Linked DNA regions of Homo sapiens: regions 1, 3 and 4 are each linked to region 2. The links come from fine-mapping of genetic effects on gene expression. A gene starts in region 2. Each other region holds a variant in brackets. All regions are shown on one strand. Distances are from middle to middle.

Region 1 (6,489 bases), 100 kb before region 2:
GATCACTTGAGCCCAGGAGTTCAAGACCAGCCTGGGTAACATGGTGAAACCCCGTCACAGCTAAAAATACAAAAATTAGCTAAGCATGATGGTGCATGCCTGCAGTCCCAGCTACTCAGGAGGCTGCGGCAGGAGGATTGCTGGAGCCTGAAAGGTGGAAGTTGCAGTGAGCCAAGATTGCGCCACTGCACTCCAGCATGGGCAACAGAGTGAGACCCTGTCTCAAAAAATAAATAAATATAATAAAAATAAATAAATCATTATGGACTTTCATTTAAGGTAAATAACTTCATCTTAGGGACATTTTAAGGTATCTTAAATAAGAAAAAGTATTTTTATTTCAGTTTTGTTCATATCTGTATATATTGTGAGTGACCATTTAAAAAGATATTTTATAAATTAATTTAATAGAGCAAAAATCAATGTTTTACATAGTTGATTTGTGAAAAACTACTTTCTTTAAAGGAATAAAATTTACTTAGGTAGGTAAAATAGATTTTCTGTAAAGTTACCTGAGTTGCCTAGTGCTTTCCTTCCTGTTGTAACATCATAGTCAACATCATTGCACATGGAGGCAATTACTGAAAGACCTTCATATTTTGCTACTGAATTTGATGAAATTAAAGCCAACTGACTAATTTTGCATTATTTGAATTTCTTGATTTCATCTTTTCCTTATCTATATCATGGTTATCAAACTAATGATTCCCACTTTCATTGGAAATGAAGGAACAAAAATATAAATGCGATGATATGTGTTTACTATCTAAATTGTTTTAAAAGCTATTTGTGGGTGTCCATAAAATTCAATAATAATAAAAGGATACATAAAGAAGGACTCAAAATCAATATACTTAAAATAAAAGAATACCTTTAAGCTCAGTAGATATTCACAAACAGCATAACAAATGCCAATACCTTCTTCCGTATTAGTACCTCTGCCAAGTTCATCAATTAATATGAGCGATTTGTCATTAGCATTATGTAGAATATATGCTATCTGAAATATATAATTTTAATATTTATTCATTGTAACCAAACAGCTGTCAATATCACAGGAAAAAATGAGGAGAAACCCAGTCTCTTTATAAGTTCATCTGAAATGTATTCTTAGAGACATCCTGCTGAGCAGAAAATAATAGTTTTCTTTTCTAAAAATCTCATGACTAATAATTCCAGTAGAATAGCTGATGTGTACATAAATAGACATATGCATATGTATATGAGACAACAGAGTAAATAACCATTATCTAAAATATTGATGCTTTAGATACAGTGAAAAAATGCAATAAATTAAATGTTTAAACTAAGCACAAAGATGGTCATTTTCTTCTCCACAAATGACTAATCAATTACTGCTATAAAGTATCCAAAACCATCTCTCAAATTTATTTAAGTATTACTCTATACCCTGTAAAGATGAAGTAAAGAAAAATTTAAGAAAAAATACCTAAGTCTTGATTCTTGGTTTAACAAATAAATTTAAATCCATGACCAATGGAGACTAAGACTTAAATTGACAGAAGTGCTCTTTTCCACTGAAGATTATTAACCTCTTTCTCAAAAATAGAATTTTATCTTTATTATATTATGACACAATAGTAACTTTGATGGACATTTTACCTTTCTATGAGACTAAGCTTTTTGAGTGCTAGGACCATTTAAAAATATACCTTAAGTGCCTAATATATTGCTACGATCTATTATAGATATTCAATACACAATAAATAATTATATAAATCATGGGACAAATGATAACTTTAGTCACCACCTATCTACTTGAAGAAAATTTTCCAACTAAACAGTGATCCTAAATTCATAATACAGATATCCCAAGAGTTACACTTAATTCCTTCAGTTCTAAAGCCTACTTGACGTTTGCTCAATCAGAAATAGGTGATACTTTGGTACAGGGAGTGAAAATTCTATGAGAACAAAGAAGAGGATGATTTTTGAAACCCTTCTAACACAGTAATCTTTTGTTTTAAAATCAAGCCTATGAAGAACAATAAATACTATGCAAAATGGTACTGAACCAGTTATCATTTTCTGAAGTCTTTTACGTATTTCCTATAAAAACATTTAGGCACACTTTTATTACTTAATAATGCTAGCTCTTTCTCTTAAAATTATATTTTCACTTAAACATTGTCTTCCATTTCCACATAAAACAGAAATTAGGAGGCTGTCTTTGACTGCCCTCTGGCTCTTAGAAAAGGGTATAAGCAACATCTGCATATTTTAGTATAAAAATATTTTATGTGATAACTGGCCATTAGTGAGAGAATTTAATGTTTTTAACATAAGAAAAGTTTTGTTTGGGTACCTCTTTCATTTCTTTCATAAATGTTGATGAATTTGTTTCGATATCATCATCAGTACTAATTCTTGTAAAAATCTGTTTAGCAATTCTAAAGGAAGAATATTCTGCTGGAACATATGATCCTGTAAAATATAAGGTCAAGATAAACTGAAATGTGTTTATAAAATATAATTACTAATAACATTTTGTACTTCTCAGATTATTTACAAGGATTATATGGTAGAAAGAACACTAGATATGGCATTAGAAGACATGACCCCAGTTCTATCCCTTATTATAAAAGCTTAGACAGCACTTAAACTTTCCCAGTCCTAGCCGGGCGTGTTGCGGGGAAACTGTGGTCCCAACTACTCGGGAGGCTGAGGCAGGAGAATGGCGTGAACCCGGGAGGCGGAGCCTGCAGTGAGCCGAGATCGCGCCACTGCATTCCAGCCTGGGCGACAGAATGAGACTCCGTCTCAAAAAAAAAAAAAAAAAAAGTTGCCCTACCTACTGTACAAAGTTATCCAGAAGTTCAAATAAGGCAGTAAATGTTCAAGTACATAACAAACAGACAGTTATAAACACAATAAAAATTTTAAATAACTTACTTGAATGATAACATTCAAAATATTAAAATATGAAGGGAATGCTTATAAAGCTTATGAATATAATATGCCAGTTACACTGATCTAATCATTATACATGGTATGTATTCAAACATCACTATGTATCTCTTAAATGCGTGCAATTATTATGTCAAAAATAAAATAAATTAAAAAAAGAAATATGAAAATCTGAAGAAAATGCCTATAAAGCTGAAGTTAATAAAATCATTATAAAAAGATATAAAGAAATATCTGTGATTACAAACATGGAGAAACATTCAGAAGCAAAATAAAAGCAAAACATTTAATAAAAAGAAAAAAAAGGTGAATTTTCACCCACAAGACTGTTTCTGCCCAAGAAGTTATTGTGCTAACTCATCTAAAATATTCGTTTTTTGAAAACAAATCAATCTGATTAATGCACCAGTCTCAATATAGAATAAAATCTAAAATGCATTCTAACATTATAAGAAGATAAAATATACAAATAGTTGAAAGGGAAACGTACCACATATACAGAATTCTGTATAGGTAAAATGGTGAAATAATAGCAGCAAAAAAACCAAAGCCAGATTACTCCAAGATTAAAAACAAAAAAAGGGTAAAGAATAGGGCTTAACTCTGAGGAATAAGGAGTAGCAAGAAAAGAAACCAAAAGTCAGATTAATATTAATGAAAATAAAAGTAATAATCATAACAGTAGTAATTATAATAACGGCACCTATACCATTCGACATACTAGATATTTTATATCCACTCTTCCTAATTTTCAAAATAACCCAATAAATTATAAAAACTAGAAAGATGTATCTCCCCCATTCTACTCTATTTTTTTGCTTGTTTTCCTAAAAGGATGAATTATGAACCTAGAGTGGCTTCTGACACATAATCTCATGATAAATGTTTGCTGAAAATAAATAATGAAGTGATAGAGCCAGAATTTGAATCAGAACTTTCTGGCTAAAAACAAAAACAAAAACATAAACAAACTGTCCATTTCCAAGAAAACAGGAATGACCTGCTACCTTCTTAAGATTCTGGAGAAGGGTGGGGACAATTTGCTAATTTAGGGCAAAGATTATTTGTCAGGCTGCATGGGTTTGAATCCTTGTGCTGCCTCTTACAAACTATATAATCTTGGACAAATTCCTTCTCAATACTTTGACTTACTCATCT[A/G]TAACATGGAGTTAATAATCTTTATCATATTTTTATGAGTGTTAACCAGATAACACTTCCAGTTTCCAGGCAGATAAACGTGAAATGCGTATTATCATGCAAGGTATATACAGCAGTGATGGGCATAGTGAACACTCAATATTAGCTACTGGGGTGTATTAGTCTGCTGCTTCACCCTGCTATAAAATCCCTGAGACTGAGTAATTTATAAACAAAAGAGGTTTAATTAACTCACAATTCTGCATGGCTGGGGAGGCTTCAGGAAACTTACAATCATGACGGAAGGCAAATAGAAAGCAAGGACCGTCCTCATATGCGAGCAGGAGAGGGAGAGAGCAAGGTGGGAACTGCCAAACACTTTTAAACCATCAGATCTTGTGAGAATTCACTATCACAAGAACAACATTGGGGAAACCGCCCCCCATGATCTAATCACCTCCGACCAGGTCCCTCCCTTGACACGTGGGATTACAATTCAAGGTGAGATTTGGGTGGAGACACAGAGTCAAACGGCATAATGGGGCAAGTGGGGAAGACTAAGGTAAAGGATTTATACTGGGTGATCTTGGGCAAGTCTTTGAGCCTGACTTTCCTCATTTTATAGAAATTCAATACCTATTTATTGAAGCCCTTCTATGTGTTAGGGTAAATAAACAGACATGGGTCCTGCCCTCAGAGAGCAGAACTTAGATTTCAAATACAACTTTCTTATGGAGTTTCTAGGAGAATAAATGTGAAATAAATGTGAAGGTAATATATATATATATATAATATATATATATATGTACCAGTGTGAGTATATATATATACTGTTTAGTATATATAAGGTATAATAACTATATACATATTTTATATATAATGTATATAATATATTTATATATAATGTATACATTTATATATAATATATTTATATATTATACATTATAATGTATATAATGTATAATGTATATATTTCTATATTTATACATAATTATATATTTATATATTTATATATTATACATTATATAATATATAATACATTATATATTATACATAATAACTTGCATATAATACATCGTATATAATAGATAATAATATATATAATACATCATATATATTATATATAATACATCATATATAATACATCATATATATTATATATAATATATAATACATCATATATATTATATATAATATATAATACATCATATATACCATATATAATATATAATACATCATATATACCATATATAATATATAATACATCATATATACCATATATAATATATAATACATCATATATACTATACATGCTATATATAATACATCATATATACTATACATGCTATATATAATACATCATATATACTATACATGCTATATATAATACATCATATATACTATACATGCTATATATAATACATCATATATACTATACATGCTATATATAATACATCATATATACTATACATGCTATATATAATACATCATATATACTATACATGCTATATATAATACATCATATATACTATACATGCTATATATAATACATCATATATACTATACATGCTATATATAATACATCATATATACTATACATGCTATATATAATACATCATATATACTATACATGCTATATAATACATCATATATACTATACATGCTATATAATACATCATATATATTATATATGTTATATAATACATCATATATATTATATATACTAAATAATACATCATATATAATATATACTATATAATACATATAATACATTACATATACTATATAATATATAATACATTACATATACTATACATAATATGTAATACATTATATAGTATATATACTATATAATACATTATATATACTATATATAATACATTATATATACTATATATACTATATAATATATAATACATTATATATACTATATATACTATATAATATATAATACATTATATAAATAATAATATATAATATATAATATATAATAATATATAATATATATTATATATAATACATATGTAATATATAATACATATACATATAATACATATAATACTTTACATATACATATATATTACCTTCATTATATAAATGTGAAATAAATGTGAAGGTTATATGTATATATATATGTACCCAGTGTTTGTGTGTGTGTGTGTATATATACATATATATATATATATGTATATACACACTCAGGATACCAACTGAGGTGGGAGGTGGAGGAAAAGGGTGAAAGTATATGTGAAAACCAAAATGTTACATACCTTTATATATATATATATACACACACACACACACACACACACCCCCAGTGTGAGTCTATATATACTACGTAGTATATATACGGTATTATATACATATTTTATATATATAATGTATATAATATATATATTTATATTATATATAGAAGGTATATAT
Region 2 (8,141 bases):
GCTGCTATTTTTACCTCTCCTGACCTTAACAGCACTGATCAGTAGTGAGTTTAAAATCTGTGCTGCTCAATGTTAGAAGCCATCTTCAGACACAACTATTATCAGAAAAAAACAATTATCTGAGAAGCACAGGATTAGTTAATCTATGGCTGACAATACAAACAGTGCTTTAGTTTCTCCCATGAGCCAGAGACAGAAAAACATCTACCTTTTTCATCAGTGAAGTTCAGGGAGAGTATTTCTTTCCGAGTACCTATACCATATTTATCAGACATCTATTTTAATGTGGACTCTGTACAAAACCTATTATCTATTAGTAAATTATATAACTACATGAAAAATCAAAATGCCCTAAACATGCCAAAGATGTTTAAGCCCAGATAAAACAGTGGCTAATCAATGATACATGAAAATTAGTATTAGGATTCCAGAAACAAATTTTTCCCACACTCAACAATGCATTATATTTTAAGAAGTTTTGTGGCTGGGTGGTGGCTCCTGCCTGTAATCCCAGCACTTTGGAAAGCTGGGGCAGGCAGATCACTTGAGGTCAGGAGTTTGAGACCACTCTGGCCAACATAGCAAAACTCAGTCTCTACGAAAAATACAAAAACTAGCTGGGCATGGTGGAATGTGCCTGTAATCCCAGCTATTCAGGTGGCTCACTTAAACCCAGGAGATGGAGGCTGCAGTGAGCCCAGATCGCACCGCTGTCCTCCAGTCTGGGCAACAAAGTGAGGTTATAGCTCTCAAAAGGAAAAAAAGAAGTTTTTTTAACAGGTGGTGCATCTTAGTTTGCTACTAACCCAAATTCAGGGCATAAAGATAGATAGCAGATAAAGGCAGAAACGAGTCCAGCCCCATCCATATGGCCTTAACTCCATGATTGCTAATAGAGTATTTTCAAGGTTATGGGAACCTAACACTTAAGTAAAAAATTAATACATACCATATATCCCACAAATCGGTAGACTAAGACAACTGAGTTTGGATACTACAGGGAAAAACATTTACTCTTAACTAAGTTGTTTACTACTTTTTGCTAAGATTGTCCCAGAGTTTTCCTCGAAATTTAAAAATTTAAGGTAAAACTTTTTCAAGGTCTCAGAGTAATTCTAGAGCTAAAGTGTTATTACACATCAGCAATAGATTCAGATAATACATGCCAACACATCATTGACCTTGAAAGTATTACCCCTAACTACAAAAAGAGAAACCCGTTTTGTACCTCAAACCCTCATCTACTTTGTCTGGCAAGCCCTCTCAGTATAGGTAAAAACTGAGATTCTAATAAGCCCACAGCCTCAGACGTCCAAAGCACACTTAACTGAAGTTCAAAGGCACAGCACATCCTCAGTTCTCTGCATGGAGTTGGATGCCATTTTAAGACATAAATACTGTCTCACTGCTTATGACTGTCACACTTCTTTAAAATAAACTTTCCAACATAAAAAAATTATACATACATAATCATCTTTCTTTGAGCCATAGGATGCGATATAATCTGCATGTTTCTCCAATAACAAAGTGTCCGGTGCATCTGACTTGATAATAACATCCTTCTGTGGAGTGCCCTTTCAAAATAAAGTGGTAATCTCATCAATGTTTACCTCTACAACGTTCTTCTGCCCCACAGCATAGATTCAACATACATCTCAATTTTCACTTGATTTCATCTTGTAATAGGAAAACGTTCCATTTAAAAATTGTAACTAACTAGGGAGGCTGAGGTAGAAGATCGCTTGAGCCAGGGAAATTAAGGCTGCAGTGAACTGAGGTTGTGTCACTGCACTCCATCCTGGGCGACCGGAGACCGACTCAAAAACAAAACCAAAACAACAACAACAACAACAAATTGTATCCAACAAAAAAGAACTTAAATCATTCAGGCTTCGTCTTAGTCACGATTCAGGTAATTTTCAGGTCTCAGAGTAATTCTAGAGCTAAAGTAGTAATAATCAACTTTAGATTCAGAATACATGCCAACTCATCATTGACCCAAAAAATTACCACCAGCATTTCTTGTTGTTCACTTTTCATTCAAAAAGATAAGTAAAAAATAAACACCATAGAATATCAAAGCTTATCATTTCAGGACAACTTACGGTTTACATGTGGCAGAAAGCATATTTTTAAAAAATAAAAAAATCTAACCCTTAACTTGCAAGCGAATTCTTGCTTAATCAAATGCAGGTTTCAAAGCACCTTCTAAGTACCCCAAAAGTTGTTCAAATGTATTAAATAAGCAGTTCCTTTAGCTCCATCTTCTCCACCTTTAATCCGAGTCTCTGTATTTGCAGAAGTCCCCATGTGATGCGGCTCTAGTTCTTTTCGTATCTATATCTTCCTCATTGAGAGTACACTGCAGTCACTATAACAGGTCATGAAGATTACCGGAAGTGATTAAGTACCGAATTTTCTTCTGATCCCATTAAAAATCTTAAAGCGAGACCACATCACTAACGATTTTAAAGAAATCTTTGACACCCCCTCTCCAAGAAAAAAAAAAGCCACCAATCAGCCACAGCTTTTTAGAGGGGTTCAGAAATCGGGCTGCTCAACTCTTAACAGGCCCTCCCTACAGAAGAAGGCCTGGATAAAATTAGAAGCGGCATTGCCCGCGAGGTCTGCAGAAAACGCTGAGTAATATTTCACACTCAAAAAACCTTCCAAGGCCTGTGTCCTAACCATTCTCCAGCACCAGGAAACCAATCCTAAGGTGACCAGTGTGCTTAACCCTACTCCACCCTGTCTGCTACCAACCCATCCGGACAGCAGCGCTAAACTCACACTTACCATGTCTAACAGGGAAAGGAGAGAGCAGGGTCAGTTCCTGGGTAGACTTAGGAGCCGGGCGCCTGCGCAGATGCGCCTCTCAGGCCCCCATCGCGCTCCGATATAGCTGACCACACTTTCGCCTGCAAGGCAGAGCAGTTCCACGGCTGCCGTAGGACCCCACTGATCGCTCATAGGTGTCCTCACTGCCTGCGTCCAAAGTCCTGCGACCATATGCTTGTCCCATAGTCACTCCGATTTGTCTAGAAACAGTTTTAAATAATATTTAAATATCTGAGTTGCTTTTAAGAAATCATTTGTTCTAGCTGGACGCGGTGGCTTACGCCTGTAATCCCAGCACTTTGGGAAGCCGGACAGCAGGATTGCTTGATCCTAGGAGTGTAACCACCCAATATTGTGGTTCACTTTGCCTGCTGCTGACCGATAGCCCATTTATCAAGACAGGGGACTTGCAATGGAGTCTCCCCAAGCAGTATTCAGAGTTTTTAAAGATAATTCGGCGATTAGGGGCTTGGGAAGTAGGGAGTGCTGATGGGTCAGGTTGGAGATGGACTCATAGTGGGTAGACGTGAGTTTTTCTTGCTGTTTTCTGTTCCTGGGTAGGATGGCAGAACTGGTTGAGCCAAATTACCAATCTGGGTGGTTTCAACTGATCCATGGAGAGCAGGGTCTGCAAAATATCTCAAGAACTTATCTTAGGTTTTACAATAGTGATGTTATCCCCAGGAGCAATTTGGGGAGGTTCAGAAACTTGGAGCCAGAGGCTGCATGACCTCTAAACTGTAATTTCTAATCTTGTAGCTAATCTGTTGGTTCTGCAAAGGCAGACTGGTCCCCAGGCAAAAAAGCGGTCTTTTTGGGAAAGGGATATTATCAATTTTGTTTCAGAGTCAAACCATAAACTGAATTCCTCCCTAAATTGGTTCAGCCTAGGCTCAGGAATGAAGAAGGACAGCTTAAAAGTTAGAAGCGGCCGGTGGCTCACGCCTGTAATCCCAGCACTTTGGGAGGCCAAGGCGGGCGGATCACGAGGTCAGGGGATCGAGACCATCCTGGCTAAAACCCCGTCTCTACTACAAATACAAAAAATTAGCCGGGCGTGGGGGTGGGCGCCTGTAGTCCCATCTACTCCTGAGGTTGAGGCAGGAGAATGGCTTAAACCCGGGAGGCGGAGCTTGCAGTGAGCAGAGATCACGCCACTGCACTCCACCCTGGGCGACAGAGCGAGACTAGTCTCAAAAACAAAAGTTAGAAGCAAGATGGAATCCGTTAGGTCTGATTTCTTTCACTGCCATAATTTCCTCAGTTATAATTTTGCAAAGGCGGTTCCAGGAGATCCAGACCAGCCTGGGCAATGTTGCAAGACCCCCGTCTCTACAAATAATAAAAATATGAGCCAGACGTGGTTGCCCAAGCCTGTGGTTTCAGCTACTGGGGAAGCTGAGGTGAGAGAATTACTTGAGCTGTGGGGCAGGGGGTGGAGGCTACAGTGAGCGGTGATAATGCCACTGCACTGCAGGGTGTGAGACAGAACGAGACCATGTCTCAAAAAAATAAATCATTTGTTCTTGAGGCCCTTTGCACTCTGAAAATCTGAAATGGCTGTTAATTAGTAGAGTGCCTGCTTACACGTAGTAAGTGTTCAATGAATATTTTTTAAATGAATATTAATGAAATGTTCACATTTCCTTCCTGTTTGCCTTATCTATCTCAAGGTCCAGCCCTGTACCCGCCCCCTCTCCTCGCCACACACACAGGCCACCCTCCCCACCACCACCACCGCCACCACAAACACTTCTTCGGAGAGTGCTAATAGTAAAAATATTGGAAGTTACTTTTTTTAAAAAAATTATACTGTAAGTTCTAGGGTACATGTGTACAACGTGTAGGTTTGTTACATGGATATACATGTGCCAGGTTGGATTGCTGCACCCATTAACTCATCATTTAAATTAGGTATTTCTCCTAATGCTATCCTTCCCCCCTCCCCCAACACCATGACAGGCCCCTGTGTGTGATGTTCCCTGCCCTGTGTCCAGGTATTCTCATTCTTCAATTCCCACCTATGAGTGAGAATATGCGGTGTTTGGTTTTCTATCCTTGTGATACTTTGCTCAGAATAATGGTTTCCAGCTTCATCCATGACCCCACAAAGGACATGAACTCATCCTTTTTTATGGTTGCATAGTATTCCATGGTGTATATGTGCCACATTTTCTTAATCCACTCTATCGTTGATGACATTTGAGTTGGATCCAAGTCTTTGCTATTGTGAATAGTGCCCAATAAACATACGTGTGCATGTGTGTTTATAATCTTTGGGTATATACCCCGTAATGGGATCACTGGGTCAAATGCTATTTCTAGTTCTAGATCCTTGAGGAATCACAACACTGTCTTCCACAGTGGTTGAACTACTTTACACTCCCACCAACAATGTAAAAGTGTTCCTATTTCTCCACATCTTATCCAGCTTCTGTTGTTTCCTGACTTTGTTTTTCTTCCTTTTCTTCAACTTCTATTTTATTTTGATTTTTTTTATTATTATTTAAGTTTTACGGTACATGTGCACAACGTGCAGGTTTGTTACATATGTATACATGTGCCATGTTGGTGTGCTGCACCCATTAACTCGTCATTTAGCATTAGGTATATCACCTAATGCTATCCATCCCCCTTCCCCCGACCCCACAACCGTCCCCGGTGTGTGATGTTCCCCTTCGTGTGTCCCTGTGTTCTCATTGTTCAATTCCCACCTATGAGTGAGAACATGGGGTGTTTGGTTTTTTGTCCTTGCGATAGTTTGCTCAGAATGATGGTTTCCAGCTTCATCCATGTCCCTACAAAGGACATGAACTCATCCTTTCTTATGGCTGCATAGTATTCCATGGTGTATATGTGCCACATTTTCTTAATCCAGTCTATCATTGTTGGACATTTGGGTTGGTTCCAAGTCTTTGCTATTGTGAATAGTGCCGCAATAAACATACGTGTGCATGTGTCTTTATACCATCATGATTTATAATCCTTTGTGTATATACCTAGTAATAGGATGCCTGGGTCAAATGGTATTTCTAGTTCTAGATCCCTGAGGAATTGCCACACTGACTTCCACAATGGTTGAACTAGTTTACAGTCCCACCAACAGTAAAAGTGTTCCTATTTCTCCACATCCTCTCCAGCACCTGTTGTTTCCTGACTTTTTAATGATTGCCATTCTAACTGGTGTGAGATGGTATCTCGTTATGGTTTTGATTTGCATTTCTCTGATGGCCAGTGATGATGAGCATTTTTTCATGTGTTTTTTGGCTGCATAAATGTCTTCTTTTGAGAAGTGTCTGTTCATATCCTTTGCCCACTTTTTGATGGGGTTGTTTTTTTCTTGTAAATTTGTTTGAGTTCATTGTAGATTCTGGATATTAGCCCTTTGTCAGATGAGTAGGTTGCAAACATTTTGTCGAGTAGGTTGCAAAAATTTTGTCCCATTCTGTAGGTTGCCTGTTCACTGTGATGGTAGTTTCTTTTGCTGTGCAGAAGCTCTTGAGTTTAATTAGATCCCATTTGTCAATTTTGGCTTTTGCTGCCATTGCTTTTGGTGTTTTAGACATGAAGTCCTTGCCCATGCCTATGTCCTGAATAGTATTACCTAGGTTTTCTTCTAGGGTTTTTATGGTTTTAGGTCTAACATTTAAGTCTTTAATCCATCTTGAATTCATTTTTGTATAAGGTGTAAGGAAGGGATCCACTTTCAGCTTTCTACATATATCTAGCCAGTTTTCCTAGCACCATTTATTAAATAGGGAATCCTTTCCCCATTGCTTGTTTTTGTCAGGTTTGTCAAAGATCAGATAGTTGTAGATATGTGGCATTATTTCTGAGGGCTCTGTTCTGTTCCATTGGTCTATATTTCTGTTTTGGTACCAGTACCATGCTGTTTTGGTTACCGTAGCCTTGTAGTATAGTTTGAAGTCAGGTAGCATGATGCCTGCAGCTTTGTTCTTTTGGCTCAAGATTGACTTGGCAATGTGGGCTCTTTTTTGGTTCCATATGAACTTTAAAGTAGTTTTTTCCAGTTCTGTGAAGAAAGTCATTAGTAGCTTGATGGGGATGGCATTGAATCTATAAATTACCTTGGGCAGTATGGCCATTTTCATGATATTGATTCTTCCTACCCATGAGCATGGAATGTTCTTCCATTTGTTTGTATCCTCTTTTATTTCATTGAGCAGTGGTTTGTGGTTCTCCTTGAAGAGGTCCTTCACATCCCTTGTAAGTTGGATTCTAGGTATTTTATTCTCTTTGAAGCAATTGTGAATGGGAGTTCACTCATAAGTTGGCTCTCTGTTTGTCTGTTATTGGTGTTTAGGAATGCTTGTGATTTTTGCACATTGATTTTGTATCCTGAGACTTTGCTGAAGTTGCTTATCAGCTTAAGGAGATTTTGGGCTGAGACGATGGGGTTTTCTAAATATACAATCATGTCATCTGCAAACAGGGACAATTTGACTTCCTCTTTTCCTAATTGAATACCCTTTATGTCCTTCTCCTGCCTGATTGCCCTGGCCAGAACTTCCAACGCTATGTTAAATAGGAGTGGTGAGTGATGGCATCCCTGTCTTGTGCCAGTTCTCAAAGGGAATGCTTCCAGTTTTTGCCCATTCAGTATGATATTGGCTGTGGGTTTGTCATAGATAGCTCTTATTATTTTGAGATACATTCCATCAATACCTAGTTTATTGAGAGTTTTTAGCATGAAGGGCTGTTGAATTTTGCCGAAGGCCTTTTCTGCATCTATTGAGATAATCATGAGTTTATGTCCTTGGTTCTGTTTATGTGATGGATTACATTTATTGATTCAAGACTTGCATCCCAGGGATAAAGCCTATTAGATCGTGGTGGATAACCTTTTTGATGTGTTGCTGGATTCGGTTTGCCAGTATTTTATTGAGGATTTTTCATCCATGTTCATCAAGGAAATTGGTCTAAAATTCTCTTTTTGTTGTGTGTCTGCCAGGCTTTGGTATCAGGATGATGCTGCCCTCATAAAATCAGTTGAGGATTCCTTCTTTTTCTATTGTTTGGAATAGTTTCAGAAGGAATGGCACCAGCTCCTCTTTGTACCTCTGGTAGAATTCGGCTGTGAATCCAACTGGTCCTGGACTTTTTTTGGTTGGTAGGCTGTTAATTATTGCCTTAATTTCAGAGCCTGTTATTGGTCTATTCAGATATTCAACTTCTTCCTGGTTTAGTCTTGGAAGGCTGTATATGTCCAGGAATTTATCCATTTCTTCTAGATTTTCTAGTTTATTTGCGTAGAGGTGTTTATAGTATTCTCTGATGGTAGT
Region 3 (8,568 bases), 38 kb before region 2:
TGTTGGTGTTTATATTATGGTGTATTTTTACAGTGGCTGGTACTGGTTTTTCCTTTCCATATTTAATGCTTCCTTCAGGAGTTCTTGCAAGGCAGGCCTGATGGTGACAAAATCCCTCAGCATTTGCTTGTCTGTAAAGGATTTTATTTCTCCTTCACTTATGAAATTAAGTTTGGCTGGATGAAATTCTGGGTTAAAAATTCTTTTCTTTAAGAATATTGAATATTGGCCCCCACTCTCTTCTTGCTTGTAGGGTTTCTGCACAGAGATCCGCTGTTAGTCTCATGGGCTTCCCTTTGTAAATAACCTGACCTTTCTCTCTGGCTTCCCTTAACATTTTTTCCTTTTGTTTCAACCTTGGCGAATCTGACAATAATGAGACAGAAAATTAACAAGGATATTCAAGACTTGAACCCAGCTCTGAACCAAGTGGACCTAATAGACATCTATAGAACTCTCTACCCCAAATCAACAGAATATACATTCTTCTCAGCACCACATAGCACTTATTCTAAAATCGACCACATAATTGTAAGTAAAACACTCTTCAGCAAATGGAACAGAATGGAATTCATAACAGTCTCTCAGACCACAGTGCAATCAAATTAGAACTCAGGATTAAGAAACTCACTCAAAACTGCACAACTGCATGGAAAGTAAACAACCTCCTCCTGAATGACTACTGGGTAAATAACAAAATTAAGTCAGAAACAAAGAAGTACTTTGAAACCAATGAAAACAAAGAGACAATGTACCAGAATCTCTGGGACACAGCTAAACCAGGGTTAAGAGGGAAATTTATAGCACTAAATGCCCACATCAGAGAGTGGAAAAGATCTCAAATCGACACCCTAACATCACAATTAAAAGAATTAGAGAAGCAAGAGCAAACAAATTCAAAAGCTAGAAGAAGACAAGAAATAACTAAGATCAGAGCAGAACTGAAGGAGACAGAGACATGAAAAACCCTTCGAAAACTCCATGAACCGGGGAGCTGGTTTTTTGAAAAGATTAACAAAATAGACCACTATGCAGACTAATAAAGAAGAAAAGGGAGAAGAATCAAATAGACACAATAAGAAATGATAAAGGGGATATCACCACTGATCCCACAGAAATACAAACTAACATCAGAGAATACTATAAACACCTCTACACAAATAAACTAGAAAATCTAGAAGAAATGGATAAATTCCTGGACACATACACCCTCCCAAGACTAAACCAGGAAGAAGTTGAATCTGTGACTAGACCAATAACAAGTTCTGAAATTGAGGGAGTAATTAATAGCCCACCAACCAAAAAAAGCTCAGGACCAGATGGATTCACAGCCGAATTCTACCAGAGGTACAAGGAGGAGCTGGTACCATTCCTTTTGAAACTATTTCAAACAATAGAATAAGAGGGACTCCTCTCTAACTCATTTTATGAGGGCAGTATCATCCTGATTCCAAAACCTGGTACAGACACAACAAAAAAAGAAAATTTCAGGCCAATATCCCTGATGAACATTGATGTGAAAATCCTCAGTAAAATACTGGCAAACCGAATCCAGCAGCACATCAAAAAGCTTATCCACCACAATCAAGTTGGCTTTATCCCTGGGATGGAAGGCTAGTTCAACATATGCAAATCACTAAATGTAATCTGTCACATAAACAGAACCAATGACAAAAACCACATGATTATCTCAATACATGCAGAAAAGGCCTTCGATAAAATTCAACACCCTTCATACTAAAAAACTGTCAATAAACTAGGTATTGATGGAACATATCTCAAAATAGTAAGAGCTATTTATGACAAACCCACAGCCAATATCATATTGAATGGGCAAAAACTGGAAGCATTCCCTTTGAAAACCGGCACAAGACAAGGATGTCCTTTCTCACCACTCCTATTCAACATAGTATTGGAAGTTCTGGCCAGGGCAATCAGGCAAGAGAAAGAAATAAAGGGTATTCATATAGGAAGAGAGAAAGTCAAATTGTCTCTGTTTGCAGATGACATGATTATATATTTAGAAAACCCCATCGTCTCAGCCCAAAAACTCCTTAAACTGATAAACAACTTCAGCAAAATCTCAGGACACAAAATTAATGTGCAAAAATCACAAGCATTCCTATACACCAATAATAGACAAGCAGAGAGCCAAATCATGAGTGAACTCCCATTCACAACCGCTACGAAGAAAATAAAACACCTAGGAATACAACTTACAAGGGAAGTGAAGGACCTCTTCAATGAGAACTACAAAAAGAACTCAAGGAAATAAGAGAGGACACAAACAAATGGAAAAACATTCCATGCTCACAGATAGGAGGAATCAATATTGTGAAAATGGCCATACTGCCCAAAGTAATTTATAGATTCAATGTTATTCCCATTTAGCTACCATTGACTTTCTTCACAGAACTAGAAAAAAAAATACTTTAAATTTCATATGGAATGAAAAAAGAGATCATATAGCCAAAACAATCCTAAGCAAAAAAAAAAAAAAACAAAGCTGAAGGTATTATGCTACCTGACTTCAAACTACTACAAGGCTACAGTAACTAAAACGGTATGGTACTGGTACCAAAACAGATATATAGACCAATGGAACAGAACAGAGACCTGAGAAATAACACCACATATGTTTGACAAACCTAACAAAAGCAAGCAATGGGGAAAGGATTCCCTGTTTAATAAACGGTGCTAGGAAAACTGGCTAGACATATGCAGAAAGCTGAAACTGGATCCCTTCCTTACACCTTATACAAAAATTAACTCAAGATGGATTAAAGACTTAAATGTAAGACCTAAAACCATACAAACCCTAGAAGAAAACCTAGGCAATACCATTCAGGATATAGGCATAGGCAAAGACTTCATGACTACAACACCAAAAGCAATGGCAACAAAAGCCAAAATTGACAAGTGGGATCAATTAAACTAAAGCGCTTCTGCTCAGCAAAAGAAACTATCATCAGAGTGAAAAGGCAACCTACAGAATGGGAGAAAATTTTTACAATCTACCCATCTGACAAAGCTCTAAAATCCAGAATCCACAAGGAACTTAAAAACATTTACAAGAAAAAAACAACCCCATCAAAAAGTGGGCAGAGGATATGAACAGACACTTCTCAAAAGAAGACATTTGTGCGGCCATCAAACATATGAAAAAAAGCTCATCATCACTGGTCATTAGAGAAATGCAAATCAAAACCACAATGAGATACCAGCTCAAGCCAGTTAGAATGTCGATCATTAAAAAGTAAGGAAACAACAGATGCTGGAGAGGATGTGGAGAAATAGGAACACTTTACACTGTCGGTGGGAGTCTAAATTAGTTCAACCATTGTGGAAGACAGTGTGGCGATTCCTCAAGGATCTAGAACCAGAAATATCATTTGACCCAGCAATCCCATTACTGAGTATATACCAAAAAAATTATAAATCTTTCTACTATAAAGACACATGCACATGTATGTTTACTGCAGCACTATTTACAATAGCAAAGGCTTGGAACCAACCCAAATGCCCATCAATGATAGACTGGATAAAGAAAATGTGGCACATATACACCATGGAATACTATGCAGCCATTAAAAAGAATGAGTTCATGACCTCTGCAGGGACATGGATGAAGCTGGGAACCGTCATCCTCAGCAAACTAATGCAGGAACAGAAAACCAAACACTGCATGTTTTCACTCATAAGTGGGAGTTGAACAATGAGAACACATGGGCACAGGGAGGGGAACATCACACACTGGGGCCTGTCAGTGGGTGGAGGGAAAGGGGAGGGAGAGCATTAGGACAAATCCCCAATGCATGCAAGGCTTAAAACCTAGATGATGGGTTGATAGGTGCAGCAAACTACCATGGCACATGTATACCTATGTGACAAACCTGCATGTTCAGCACATTTCAGCACATGTATTCCAGAATTTAAAGTAAAGAAAAAAAAAATTAGCAATATGCCTGTTGGTGACTGTGTTAGGGTGAGTTCTCCAGAAACAGACCCTGAGGCAAGGGCAATTTTCTTATCCCATGTTATGGGTTGAATTGTGACCCCCAAATGATACTGTGAAGTCTTAACTCCGGGTATCTGTTAGTGTGACCTTATTTGGAAATTGCATCTTTGCAAATGTAATCAAGCTAATGTGAGGTTATTAAGGTAGGTCTTAATACAATACGACTAGTGTCTTTATAAGACGACAATGTGAAGACACGCAGGGAGAAAACCATATGACAATAGAAGCAGAGATTGCAATGACAAACCTGTGAGCCAAGGCCCATCATGGACTGACAGCGACCACCAAAAGCTAGAAAGGGGCAAAGGATTCTCCCCTATAGGTTTCAGAGGGAGCATGGCTTTTCTGACACCTTATTTTAAGTTTCTAGCTTCCAGAACTGTAAGACAAAAACTTTCTGTTGTTTTAAACCATGGAGTAGGTACTAGTTTTTAGAGCAGCCTAGGAAACTAATATATCCTATCCGTTGATAATTACGTAGTCTGAACAAATCTTCCCATCTTTGAGGATTACCATGGAGAAAAAGAATGTAAAGTATCTATGAACAACAACAACAAAAACAACAACAAAAAAAAA[C/AC]AGAAAAAAATGGAAAAGAAAAGCATACAGGAAATCAAAATACATTACATAATGTACCCCTGAAATTATTTACTACAGGACTCAGTAGAAAATTTCAGGAAAATATTTTCCATAAAAGAATACAAGAATTAACACCTTCACTACTTGTCTTTCAGAAACATGGAAAAATAACTAAGCCAACTGTATTTTTCAATAATTTGTATTTATAATATTAAATAATATTGATTTACCTGATTGAAGTCCAAAAAATAGTTCCTCATCTTGAAGTAGTTCTTGAACACAATCTAATCTCATGTTAATGGTTTCAATATCAACTAGAGGCTCTAATATATTAGAACGAAGTCGTCTACTCCCTCCAGGAGTCTTAGTATAATTTAGAACACCAAAGAGAGTGTGATTATTCCTTTCAAAACACAAGAAATGTCAGTAAGAATACAAAGAAAAACGCAAGAAAATTTCATTTCACTTTGTAATTAAATAATCCTATAATCTACAGCAATGATTCTTTTTTTTTTTTTTTTTTGAAACAGAGTCTCGCTCTCTCTCCCAGTATGGAGTACAGTGGCGCGATCTCGGCTCACTGTAAGCTCCGCCTCCAAGGTTCACGCCATTCTCCTGCCTCAGCTTCCTGAGTAGCTGGGACTACAGGCGCCCGCCACCACGCCCAGCTAATTTTTTGTATTTTTGTATTTTTAGTAGAGACGGGGTTTCACCTTGTTAGCCAGGATGGTCTCCATCTCCTGACCTTGTGATCCGCCTGCCTTGGCCTCCCAAAGTGCTGGGATTACAGGCGTGAGCCACCGCGCCTGGCCAGCAATGATTCTTAAACTTTACTGTGCATACAATTACATAAATTTCTAATTCAGTAGGTCTAATAAAAAGCATGAGGTTCTACATTTTGGGCCACGCACGGTTGCTCACACCTATAATCTCAACAACACTCTGGGAGGCCAAGGCAGGAGGAATACTTGAACTCGGGAGTTCAAGACCAGCATGGACAACATAGTGAGACCCCGAGTCTACAAAAAACTAAAAATTAACTGGACAGGGTGGCACAGGCCTTTAGTCCCAGTTAGTCAGGAGGCTGAGATGGGAGGATTGCTTGAGCCCAGGAGGTCAAGGCTGCAGTGAACCATACTTGCACCACTGTATTCCAGTGTGGAGACAGAGTGAGATCTTGTCGCAAAAAAAGTTTTTAGATATATTTTGATTTTTTGAAGGGATTTTTGTGTCTCTATTTCCTTCATTTCTGCTCTGATCTTAGTTATTTTTTGCATTCCGCTAGCTTTTGAATGTGTTTGCTCTTGCTTCTCTAGTTCTTTTAATTGTGATGTTAGGGTGTCAATTTTAGATCTTTCCTGCTTTCTCTTGTGGGCATTTAGTGCTATAAATTTCCCTCTACACACTGCTTTGAATGTGTCCCAGAGATTCTGGTATGTTGTGTCTTTGTTCTCGTTGGTTTCAAAGAACATCTTTATTTCTGCCTTCATTTCGTTATGTACCCAGTAGTCATTCAGGAGCAGGTTGTTCAGTTTCTATGTAGTTGAGCGGTTTTGAGTGAGTTTCTTAATCCTGAGTTCCAGTTTGATTGCACTGTGGTCTGAGAGACAGTTTGTTATAATTTCTGTTCTTTTACATTTGCTGAGGAGTGCTTTACTTCCAGCTATGTGGTCAATTTTGGAATAGGTGTGGTGTGGTGCTGAAAAGAATGTATATTCTGTTGATTTGGGGTGGAGAGTTCTGTAGATGTCTATTACGTCCGCTTGGTGCAGAGCTGAGTTCAGTTCCTGGATATCCTTGTTAACTTTCTGTCTCGTTGATCTGTCTAATGTTGACAGTGGGGTGTTAAAGTCTCCCATTATTATTGTGTGGGAGTCTAAGTCTCTTTGTAGGTCTCTAAGTACTTGCTTTATGAATCTGGGTGCTCCTGTATTGGGTGCATATATATTTAGGATAGTTAGCTCTTCTTGTTGAATTGATCCCTTTACCATTATGTAATGGCCTTCTTTGTCTCTTTTGATCTTTGTTGTGAATCCAGGAGCTGGTTTTTTGAAAAGATAAACAAAATTGATAGACCACTAGCAAGACTAATAAAGAAGAAAAGAGAGAAGAATCAAATAGATGCAATAAAAAATGATAAAGGGGATATCACCACTGATCCCACAGAAATACAAACTACCATCAGAGAATACTATAAACACCTCTATGCAAATAAACTAGAAAATCTAGAAGAAATGGATAAATTCCTGGAGACATACACCCTCCCAAGACTAAACCAGGAAGAAGTTGAATCTCTGAATAGACCAATAACAGGCTCTGAAATTGAGGCAATAATTAATAGCTTACCAACCAAAAAATGTCCAGGACCAGATGGATTCACAGCCAAATTCTACCAGAGATACAAGGAGGAGCTGGTACCATTCCTTCTGAAACTATTCCAATCAACAGAAAAAGAGGGAATCCTCCCTAACTCATTTTATGAGGATATATTTTGAACAAGCTCCCATATATGCTATTGGTCAATGAACTACACTTTAACAAGGATGAATAGAATCTCCTTGCACTTTATGACTTCTTTTATAGATCAGTTACAATATTCACACTAATATAAAGTTTTCTAGTCTATTTATTCCATCCATAATAGCAAGATATTAATAATATATCCTTAAGGGTGGAGGGGCTTTTATATTGTTAAAATAAATATTTACTATAATGATCTTGTTCTGATGACAAGTACAAGACAATTTCATAATTCCTAGGTGATTTATAAAGAAATGAGCTATTCTAAAGAATGCTGGTCAGTCAAGGTGGCGCATGCCTGTATTCCCAGCACTTTGGGAGGCAGAGGCAGGTGGATCACTTGAGGTTAGGAGTTCAAGACCAGCCTGGCCAACATGGTGAAACCCCATCTCTACTGAAAAAAAAATACAAAAATTAGCCAGGTATAGTGGCAGGCACCTGTAATCCCAGCTTCTCAGGAGGCTGAGCCATAAGAATCACTTGAACCCGGGAGGCGGAGGTTGCAGTGAGCCGAGATTGCGCCACTGCACTCCAGCCTGGGCTACAAAGTGAGACTCTGTCTAAAACAAACAAAAACAAAGAAACAAAAAAATTCATTTAGTTGGACTATTTATTAGACAACTTCATATAATACATGTAAAAAATCTGATTCATTTTAATATTTAACAAATACTTTTTGAGCCCTTATGGTATTCAAAACTCTATGCTAAACACTGGGCATATAAGACGGACATGATTCCTGTCTTCACAGACCTTACAGCCTAATGGCGATTGCCAATAACTTTTTATTTATTTATTTATTTAGACAGAGTCTTGCTCTGTTGCGCAGGCTGGAGTACAGCAGCACTATCTAGGCTCACTGCTACCTCTGCCTCCAGGGTTCAAGTGATTCTCATGCCTCAGCCTCCTGAGTAGCTGGGATTACAGGTGTGCCACTATGCTGGCTAAATTTTGTATTTTTGGTAAAGACAGGGTTTCACCATGGCGACCAGGCTGGTCTCAAACTCCTGGCCTCAAGTGATCCACCCACGTTGGCCTGCCCAGGGTGCTGGGATTACAGGCATGAGCCACCGCACTTAGCCATTGACAATAACTTTTGTCAGTTTACTGGCCGTGACTGAAGACAAGACAAAGAGCGAGGGGAAATAAACAATAAAAACAATAAACACATAATCATATCAAGAAAATAATTTTAGGTACAGAAACAGCTAAAAAAAACAAAAACAGGCCGGGCACGGTGGCTTACACCCGTAATCCCAGCACTTTAGGAGGCCGAGGCGGGTGGATCATGAGGTCAGGAGATCGAGACCGTCCTGGCTAACACAGTGAGACCCCGTCCCTACTAAAAATACAAAAAAAAAATTAGCTGGGCATGGTGGTGGGTGCCTGTAGTCCCAGCTACTTGGGAGGCTGAGGCAGGAGAATGGCGTGAACCCTGGAGGCAGAGCTTGCAG
Region 4 (8,568 bases), 25 kb before region 2:
TCCATTTTCCTTATACTTCATATTGCTTTTGATTTAATGCAGGTCTGTTTTTTTTTCTTAAGAGAGGGGTCTCACTATGTTGCCCAAGCTAGATTTGAACTACTGGGCTCAAGTGATCCTCCCACCCTGGCCTCCCAAGTACCTGGGACTACAGGCACATGTCACTACACCTGGCTAATGAAGGTCTTCTTATGGTAAGTGTAGTCATAATAGTAATAATGATAATAAAAATATCGAATTTTCCCTCTGCTTAGAATACTTTTACCTCAAATACCTCCATGGCTTGCTCCCTCACTCCATTCAGAACTTTGCCCAAATGTAACCTTATCAATGAGGCCATCTCTGATTACCCTATATAAAATATCAATTTTCTAGGAGGTTGGTATCTCCTATTGTCCCTAATTTACTGATGAAAAAAACTGAAGCTCCAAGAAGTTAAGTGTCTTGCAGTAGGTCACGTAGAGTCAAGATCTGAAACCGGGACAATCTGACTTCTCTATTCTTAAGCACTATGCTATACTGCCTTACTATTCAAATGCACTGAAATTATGTTGTTTTTGCCTTTGGAGGACTTATCCCCCATTCCATGTGATTCTGGAAGGCCTAGCTATCATAGTATTCTGTGTCTCACAGCAAAAGGATTAGTCAATTATAGTGTATCTACCCCCAGAAATAGTGATTACTCTAACGTGTGAGAAACTGAACAAAGCGGAATCAGTCAGCATCCTTCCCTGGAATTCATACATGGACACTGGAATAAAGAAATTATTTTCCCTCTGGGTTAGCTAAGCTGAGATGACATCAGCCTTGAGCCATTAGCAATCATCTTCTTAAATCTCATAGAAGTAAACTATCTGCAGTAGAAAAAGGATGATATGGGGAATGAGAGTAGTGATAAAGATGCTCTCTTTGACCAAACTCTACCTGGGCTACTATAAGCCTTCTTCTCAACTAAGCCTCCAACTGGCCTATAAAGACTTGAACGAAACACTAACATTGTTTCTAACTGCTCAAAGCCACATCCCTAGGATGACCTTAGCCTCTCATAAAGTGCCAGCCTAAGAAAACTCAGGCTGCCAAAAAAAATTTACTGTTTATTCCACTTAACACCTAAAAATAGGGTCCCTGTCTCCTATCCTCTGTGGGAGAATAGGAGCCTAACTTTGGTAAGTGCCAGTTAGCAAACCCAGATTTTTTGTTGTTGTTCTTTTGAGATGGAGTCTTGCTCTGTTGCCCAGGCTGCAGTGCAATGGCACAATCTCGGCTCGCTGCAACCTCTGCCTCCCAGGTTCAAGCGATTCTCCTGCCTCAGCTTCCCGAGTAGCTGGGACTACAGGCGCGTGCCACCAGGCCTGGCTAATTTTTTTGTATTTTTAGTAGAGATGGGGTTTCACCATGTTAGCCAGGATGGTCTCGATCTCCTGACCTTGTGATCCACCCTCCTCGGCCTCTGAAAGTGCTGGGATTACAGGCATGAGCCACCGCACCTGGTCTTACTTTTTGTTATAATAATTTTTCACTTCCCTGACTCTACTGAGCTTGTGCTTACTCCTCCTTATTCCCTTAGTCTCCCATTAAAATGCCCAGTATAAACCGAAGTTCAATTCAGTCCACACTGGACTCTTTTCTCTGTTGCAACAGCATATTACTGATTAAAATATTTAGCTAGTGTTTGGCTTTGTTTACCTTTGACAGTAGGAACAGGATCTATTCAACCATTGACTTCCCAGTTACATAAGCCAATACATTTCCTTTTTTGCATAAGGTAGTTTACATTAGATTTCTCTTATTTATAACCAAAAGAATTATAAGGCCTAATCACAACAACAACAACAACAACAAAACATGAAAGTTGGAAAGGTATGGATAAATAGGCATAATGAAAAGAAGTATAAAGTTATAAATGAAAAAGAACAGATAAAGTGATTCGTCTAATAGAGACAATAGATTTAGAATAGGGACTATCTCTGGCAATGAGTCAAAGGCAGCTCATCTATACAGGAAATCCAAGAGCACCATGACAAATCTTATATGACTGCAGATGCTGAATATATTAGGAACAGGAAAGGAACTCATTGGACTCCAAACCTCAGCTTGGTTCCAAATGTGTTAAAGTAAAAGATAAGTCTAAAAACATAACAAAATATAGTATATTCTGAAAATAATTTGCATTCCTAAGGAATTATTCCAACTGCAATGCTGTCTACTTGGTTTGGAGCCACAGCCCCCATTCTTGTTGGATAAGGTTCCACAGTGCTTACCCACTACAGTCCTACAGATAGACACTAGAGTAGCAGGCTAACTGGAAGGCAGTACATGTTATCAGGGGAAGCTGAAACAATTCTGTAATACAAATTAAATTCCCTATAGAAAAAGGTACTTGCTGATAGCTGCTATCCCCTAAGAACTTCAATTTCAACCAGTCTGACAGCACAATAAGTAGTTTCCAGGAAAATACATGTAAGGGAAACTTATGCTTTCTCTATGGGTCTGCCCCTTGTATATCTGAGAAACTTCCTTATTACCTAAAACATGTTTTCTTTTGTTTAAAGTAGATCAGGGTGCCAAATCAAATAAGTAAATTCCCTATCATTTTTATTATCTGTATTAACAGTCCCTTAGATTAGGATTTGTATTTAGTGACTACTTTAGGACACTAAATATAAAGTTACTAAAATTATTGTTCTTTATAATGATATTATTAAGTAAATTTTAAATAAAGTGATTAGGGCCGGGCACAGTGACTCACTCATGCCTGTAATCCCAGCACTTTGGGAGGCCAAGGCAGATCGATCACTTGAGGTCAGGAGTTTGAAACTAGCCTGGCCAACATGGTGAAACCCCATTTCTACTAAAAATACAAAAATTAGCTGGGTGTGGTAACACACGCCTGTAGTCCCAGCTACTTGGGAGGCTGAGGCAGGAGAATCACTCGAACTCGGGAGCTGGAGGTTGCAGTAAGCCGAGATCACGCCCTTTCACTCCAGCCTGGGTGACAGAGTGAAACTCTGTCTCAAAAAAATAAATAAATAATAAATAACAAATAAATAAATAAGTGATTAGATCTTGAATGTTACAAACAGTAAACATCACTTACCTTGAAATTTTCTGTGATCAGAGTGAACAACTTGGTGGAATTCCCCACAGCACAAGCAGTATTTGACATTATTATTTCCAAAGGTGATAAAATTTTAAGTTTAGTGATCACCTGAAATCATTTGAATAAACAATTTCTTAAATAAAGCTTAGGAAATAAAAGTTTCATATTTTTCTGAGATAAGTATTTAAAATTAATTCATAGATACACAAAATTATAACTGTCCTAATGATATATTTCAATTAAAATATGTTTCTAGCCAGGTGGGTTCACACCTGTAATCCCAGCACTTTGGGAGGCTGAGGTGGGCAGATCACTTGAGGCCAGGAGTTCGAGACCCACCTGGCCAACATGGTGAAACCCTGTCTCTACTAAAAAAAAAAAAAAAAAAAAAATACAAAAATTACCCGAGCATGGTGGTGCATGCCTGTAATCCCAGCTACTCAGGAGGCTGAGGCATGAGAATAGTTTGAGCCCAGGGGGCAAAGGTTGCAGTGAGCTGAGATCACACCAGGCACCTTTGCACGCCAGTCTAGGTGGCAGAGGGAAAATCTGTCTCAAAAACAGACAAACAAACACCACCACCACCAATAACAATAAAATATATATGTATATATATTTCTAATGGTAGTATATTGAACATATATCTCCTATATAACTACTAACATAAAATACTGTCATAAAATAGGCTATATTTTACTCACAATAGTTTCTAACAGCCTTAAGTTCAAAAATTAATTTGAACTTATCAAATATATATTCCCAAAATAAAATTGTTTTTAAATAAATTCTTATACTTAGTATTTTATCCAAATACTCTGTGAAAAATGTAAATACATCCAATAAGGGTAACTATGGGCCAGGGGAGGTGGCTCACGCCTGTAATCTCAGCACTTTGGGAGGCCAAGGCGACTGCATCACTTGAGGTCAGGAGTTCACAACCAGCTTGGCCAACATGGTGAAACCCTGTCTCTACTAAAAATACAAAAATTAGCCAGGCTTGGTGGTGTGCACATGTAATCCCAGCTACTTGGGAGGCTGAGGCAGGCTGAGGCAGGAGAATTGCTTGAACCCGGAAGGCAGAGGTCGCAGTGAGTCAAGATTGTGCCACTGCACTCCAACCTGGCAACCTGGGCAACAAAGTGAGACATTGTCTCAAAAAAAAAAAAAAAAAAAA[AG/G]GGTAACTATGGCAATACAATCAGTATGGCCACACTGGTACAGATTAACTGTTGAAAAGTACATAAACACAGATGAGAAACATCTGCCTTATGGCTTAGCTTTTCATAAAATAAGGTGTATTTCTTAGAACTATTCCAAACACAGAAATTCTCAATTTGTCTAACATTCCTTTTTTTTAAAAACTTTTTTCCTACTCTTTTGAAATTGTAAAAATGTATAAAATACCTACAGATGAAGTTAGTATGCAATACTAGTATCATTAAGGTTGTTAGGTATAATAAAAAATTAATTATTAGGAAAGGGAAGTCTACACACTGGAGGACCATAAAGAGGGACTAAAGGAAGAGAATTAAAAAATAATGAAACACTTGAAATAAAACACTAGATCACATCTTCAAAATAATAATTAACTAGGCTCGATGGCTCATGCCTATAATTCTAGCACTTTGGGAACCCGAGGGGCAATTCAACTTCTGAGGGGGCAGGATCACTCGAGTCTAAGGAATTTGAGACTAGCTTGGGTAACAGAGCAAGACCCCATCTATACAAAAAAAATTTAAAAATCAGCTCTATGTGGTGGTGCATGCCTGTGGTCCCTGCTACTCAAGAGGCTGAGGTGGGAGGCTGCAGTGAGTCACGATCATGCTACTGCACTTCAGCCTAGGCAAAAGAGCAAGACCTTTTAAAAATAAAATAAAATAATAATTGAGTTAAATAACATAGAAATTAGGAGTAAACTATCTCTACCTGATAGATCATGCAAATTCCCATGACAATAGGCGAGTGGCCCAAATGAATGATGAGTGATATAAAATGAAGGCAAAATAAGAAGTGAAGGCAAGAAATTAAGAGGCTAAATTCTGACTGATCTAAGATACTAGTTTTCTTTACCTCTGAAAAAATAAAATTCAAATACAGTTCAGTAGAAATAACTCTCTGGAGTTAGCATTATCATGGGTTTGGGCCATAATCCTGAAAGACACAATCTCAAATGCCATAATCCTGAATGTCAAAATCCCAAAAGAGCAAAATCCTTAAAGTCTAAAAATCCCCAGAACCCCAATACCAAAAGACCAAAATCCCAAAAACACAGTTCTGGAAGAAATAACTTCAAAAACAATTTTAAGACATTGATTTGCATTTTTAAAAGGGGATTTATTTGAGAAACATATAAAAACAGAACAGTACACTTCATAGGCCACTTTACACAATAAAATAGGCAATAATAACTTTTTTGCAAGCATGAACACTTAAGTGTACTAATGACAGTCACACAGGTATAATAACAGTTATGAGCAGACAAATTGTATTCACAAAAAAATTAGTCAAAAATTAGAAATTAGTCAAAAAGCAAAATGTATAAATGCATATCACTATGGTTGGTAATTGTCTGCACCAAGCTTCATAAATATGGTCATCTGAAATACCACCAGGGACAACCTAAGTCTTTTGATGAGATAGATCAAAAACTTCTATGGGTCACCACATACACAGTTGCCTGAAGAGCTAAGATTTCAAGAAATAAATTTTATCTTTCACAAATAAATGATGTACAAAAAGGACATGTCTTCATTTATCAAAAAAATTTCAACATTTTAATGTATATGCACAATGCTTACACACAGTCAATGTTGTGATAACGAACTTCTGTGGAGTCAAATTTCTGATGTCCAAGGCAGCAGCAGAAGAGTCTGTCCCAGCTCTTAGAGAGAGACAAATGCAATTTCTGTATTTGCTCTCTCTGGGCCCTGGTCAACTGCAAGGTGCCCACCAACACTAAGGGCAGATTTTCACCGCCTAGTCCACTCAGACTCACCCACTCATCTCCTCTGGAAGCAACCTCACAGACACAGCCCAAATAATGCTTTACTAGGTATTTTTTTAATACAGTCAAGTTGTCACCTATACTTAAATCCACAAGTCTATCCCTTGCCAATTTGGCACCCCTATGCATCTCCTTAAACCATACCTAATTTCCAAATAAAATAATAAGGTAGTAGTATTGCCTAATATGATGCATCTAACATGATGCAACTATCTTGTGTACAACCAAAAACGCATTAATCCCTTCCCTAGAATTAAGCTTTCAGGATTTCAACATTAAGGATTTTGATCTTTCAAGATTTGAACATCGGGATTATGGCATTTGGGATTGTGTCTTTAAGGATTATGATCAGTACCACATTATCACATATATTACCTTTGGAATAAATCCAGAAATTATTAATTTGAAGATGTTAATTTTAGAAACTAATACTAACAATAGCTTATTTAAATAACAGTAAAACACACTCTTTTTGGACAAAATATATTTAAAAAATAAAAATCAGATATAACACAGTTTTATTTTAATTCAGAGTATTTACATTGACATAATAATGAATAACCTTTATTCTACCAAAAAGTAAACAAATTGGGAAGGCACTGACTTTAAACTCTAGATACTGCCTAACAGAGCAACCATTTTCTAGAATTATTAATACTTACCTTTGCATATGTTGTGTTGTCTGCAAACTGGGATAGTATAATTTGGGGGTTTTTTAAATCAATACTTGCCATTCCTATTTCACCTCTGGCAAGTCCTCTCCCTTCTACAACAGCTACAATAACTGATGGGGAGTGTGCAGAAATCGCAGATGAGGATGAAGCTGTAAATTTTTAAATAAAGAAAAGATATAAACATTGATAATAATCATTTCTTTTTTTAAAAAAAACTAGGAAATTCTTAATCAAGAGGACAAAATAATGCAATCTGTAGATATCAGTTAGCCTCTTATTTCAATTCTCCCTAAAGGATCTATTGGTTCAGTACAACTATAATTTCAATCAAAACCTCAATATGTTTTTTGGTGGAGCTTGAAAAATTGGCCCAAAATTTACATGGAAGAGCAAAGGGCCAAGAAGAATCAAGACTCCTCTAAAGAAGAGTAAGGTGGCTTGTGGAGGGTACAGGTGGCAAGGCTGTCCTACAAAATATCAAGACTTATTATAAAGCTAAAGATGGTGTGATATTGGCACACAGCTAGACATAATGACCCATCAGAGTTAAAAAAGAACTAGAAACATAGAAACTAACAGAAAAGGCCGGGCGCGGTGGCTCATGCCTGTAATCCCAGCACTTTGGGAGGCCGAGGTGGGCGGATCACAAGGCCAGGAAATCGAGACCATCCTGGCTAACACGGTGAAACCCCATGTCTACTAAAAATACAAAAAATTAGCCAGGCGTGGTGGCAGGTGCCTGTGGTCCCAGCTACTCGAGAGGCTGAGGCAGGAGAATGGCGTGAACCCGGGAGGCGGAGCTTGCAGTGAGCCGGGATCGCGCCACTGCACTCTAGCCTGGGCTACAGAGCGAGACTCCTTCTCAAAAAAAAAAAAAAAAAAAAAAAAAAAAAACCAAACAGAAAAGTCATCAAAATATTTATTACTCAGAATATATAAAGTATTGCTACAAATCCAGAAAAATAAGCCTAAAGAAAAATGAGTAAAAGACATGAACATTAATTTCACAGACCATTATTAAAGATATATAGCCCAAAAGTACAGAAAAAGATAATCTCACTAGTAATCAGGAAAATGCAAACTCAGAAAATAAAAAACTCAGGTAGTATTTTACAACTGTTAGGTTGGAAAATATTGAGTCTAACAATATCAAATGTTGAAGTGGACTCTTACACATTGTTAATAAGAGCATACCATAATAACCAATAAATTAACCAATACAATTTATTATGATAATGATTATTGGCTAATTTAATAATAATCTTATGATGATGATGATGATTACTAAATTAGCCAATAATCATAATAAATTTTAGAAGTTAGTAATGATGAGGATAGAGTAAGATTGGCTTACCTTATACACTATTGATGGAATTAAAAATTAGTCCAGTTCTCAAAAGAAACTTGGCAATATATCTGAGATTCTTAAAAACTGGTAATTTTGGCCAGGCGCAGTGGCTCATAACTGTAATCCTAGCACTTTGTGAGGCTAAGGTGGGAGGATCACTTGTGGCCAGGAGTTCGAGACCAGCCTGGCCAACATGGCGAAACCCCATCTCTACTAAAAAAAAAAAATTGGCTGAGCATGGTGATGCATGCCTGTAATCCCAGCTACTCGGGAGGCCGAGGCAGGAGAATCACTTGAACCCAGGAAGTGGATGTTGCAATGAGCCGAGATGGTGCCACTGCACTCCAGCCTGGGCAATAGAACAAGGCTTCGTCTCAAAAACCAAAAAAAAAAAAAAACAAAAAATGGTAATTAAAAAAAATAAAAAAGGTAATTTCCCTATGTT

Evidence for each region.
Region 1: its variant is fine-mapped to the expression of RABGGTB in whole blood (TOPMed, PIP above 0.99).
Region 3: its variant is fine-mapped to the expression of RABGGTB in whole blood (INTERVAL, PIP above 0.99).
Region 4: its variant is fine-mapped to the expression of RABGGTB in whole blood (INTERVAL, PIP above 0.99).

What each region holds. Positions count from the first base shown.
Region 1 is chr1:75,885,207-75,891,695 of GRCh38, reverse strand. It overlaps MSH4 (mutS homolog 4), which reads right to left. Exons shown (of 20, transcript NM_002440.4): 16 at 2,327-2,445; 17 at 872-1,000. Among named protein-coding and RNA genes, the nearest start is that of ASB17, 44 kb to the left of the region's middle. The variant A/G (reference allele first, on the strand shown) is at 4,087.
Region 2 is chr1:75,780,930-75,789,070 of GRCh38, reverse strand. RABGGTB (Rab geranylgeranyltransferase subunit beta) reads right to left here and starts at 2,815. Exons shown (of 9, transcript NM_004582.4): 1 at 2,797-2,815; 2 at 1,467-1,574. The coding sequence starts at 2,799. SNORD45C (small nucleolar RNA, C/D box 45C) reads right to left here and starts at 1,999; the gene lies at 1,922-1,999. SNORD45A (small nucleolar RNA, C/D box 45A) reads right to left here and starts at 1,182; the gene lies at 1,099-1,182. RefSeq lists a silencer at 2,724-2,783 and enhancers at 2,844-3,073, 4,014-4,233.
Region 3 is chr1:75,818,838-75,827,405 of GRCh38, reverse strand. MSH4 (mutS homolog 4) reads right to left here. Exons shown (of 20, transcript NM_002440.4): 7 at 4,825-4,997. Among named protein-coding and RNA genes, the nearest start is that of MSH4, 26 kb to the right of the region's middle. The variant C/AC (reference allele first, on the strand shown) is at 4,595.
Region 4 is chr1:75,805,337-75,813,904 of GRCh38, reverse strand. It overlaps MSH4 (mutS homolog 4), which reads right to left. Exons shown (of 20, transcript NM_002440.4): 3 at 6,764-6,924; 4 at 3,098-3,208. Among named protein-coding and RNA genes, the nearest start is that of MSH4, 13 kb to the right of the region's middle. The variant AG/G (reference allele first, on the strand shown) is at 4,275.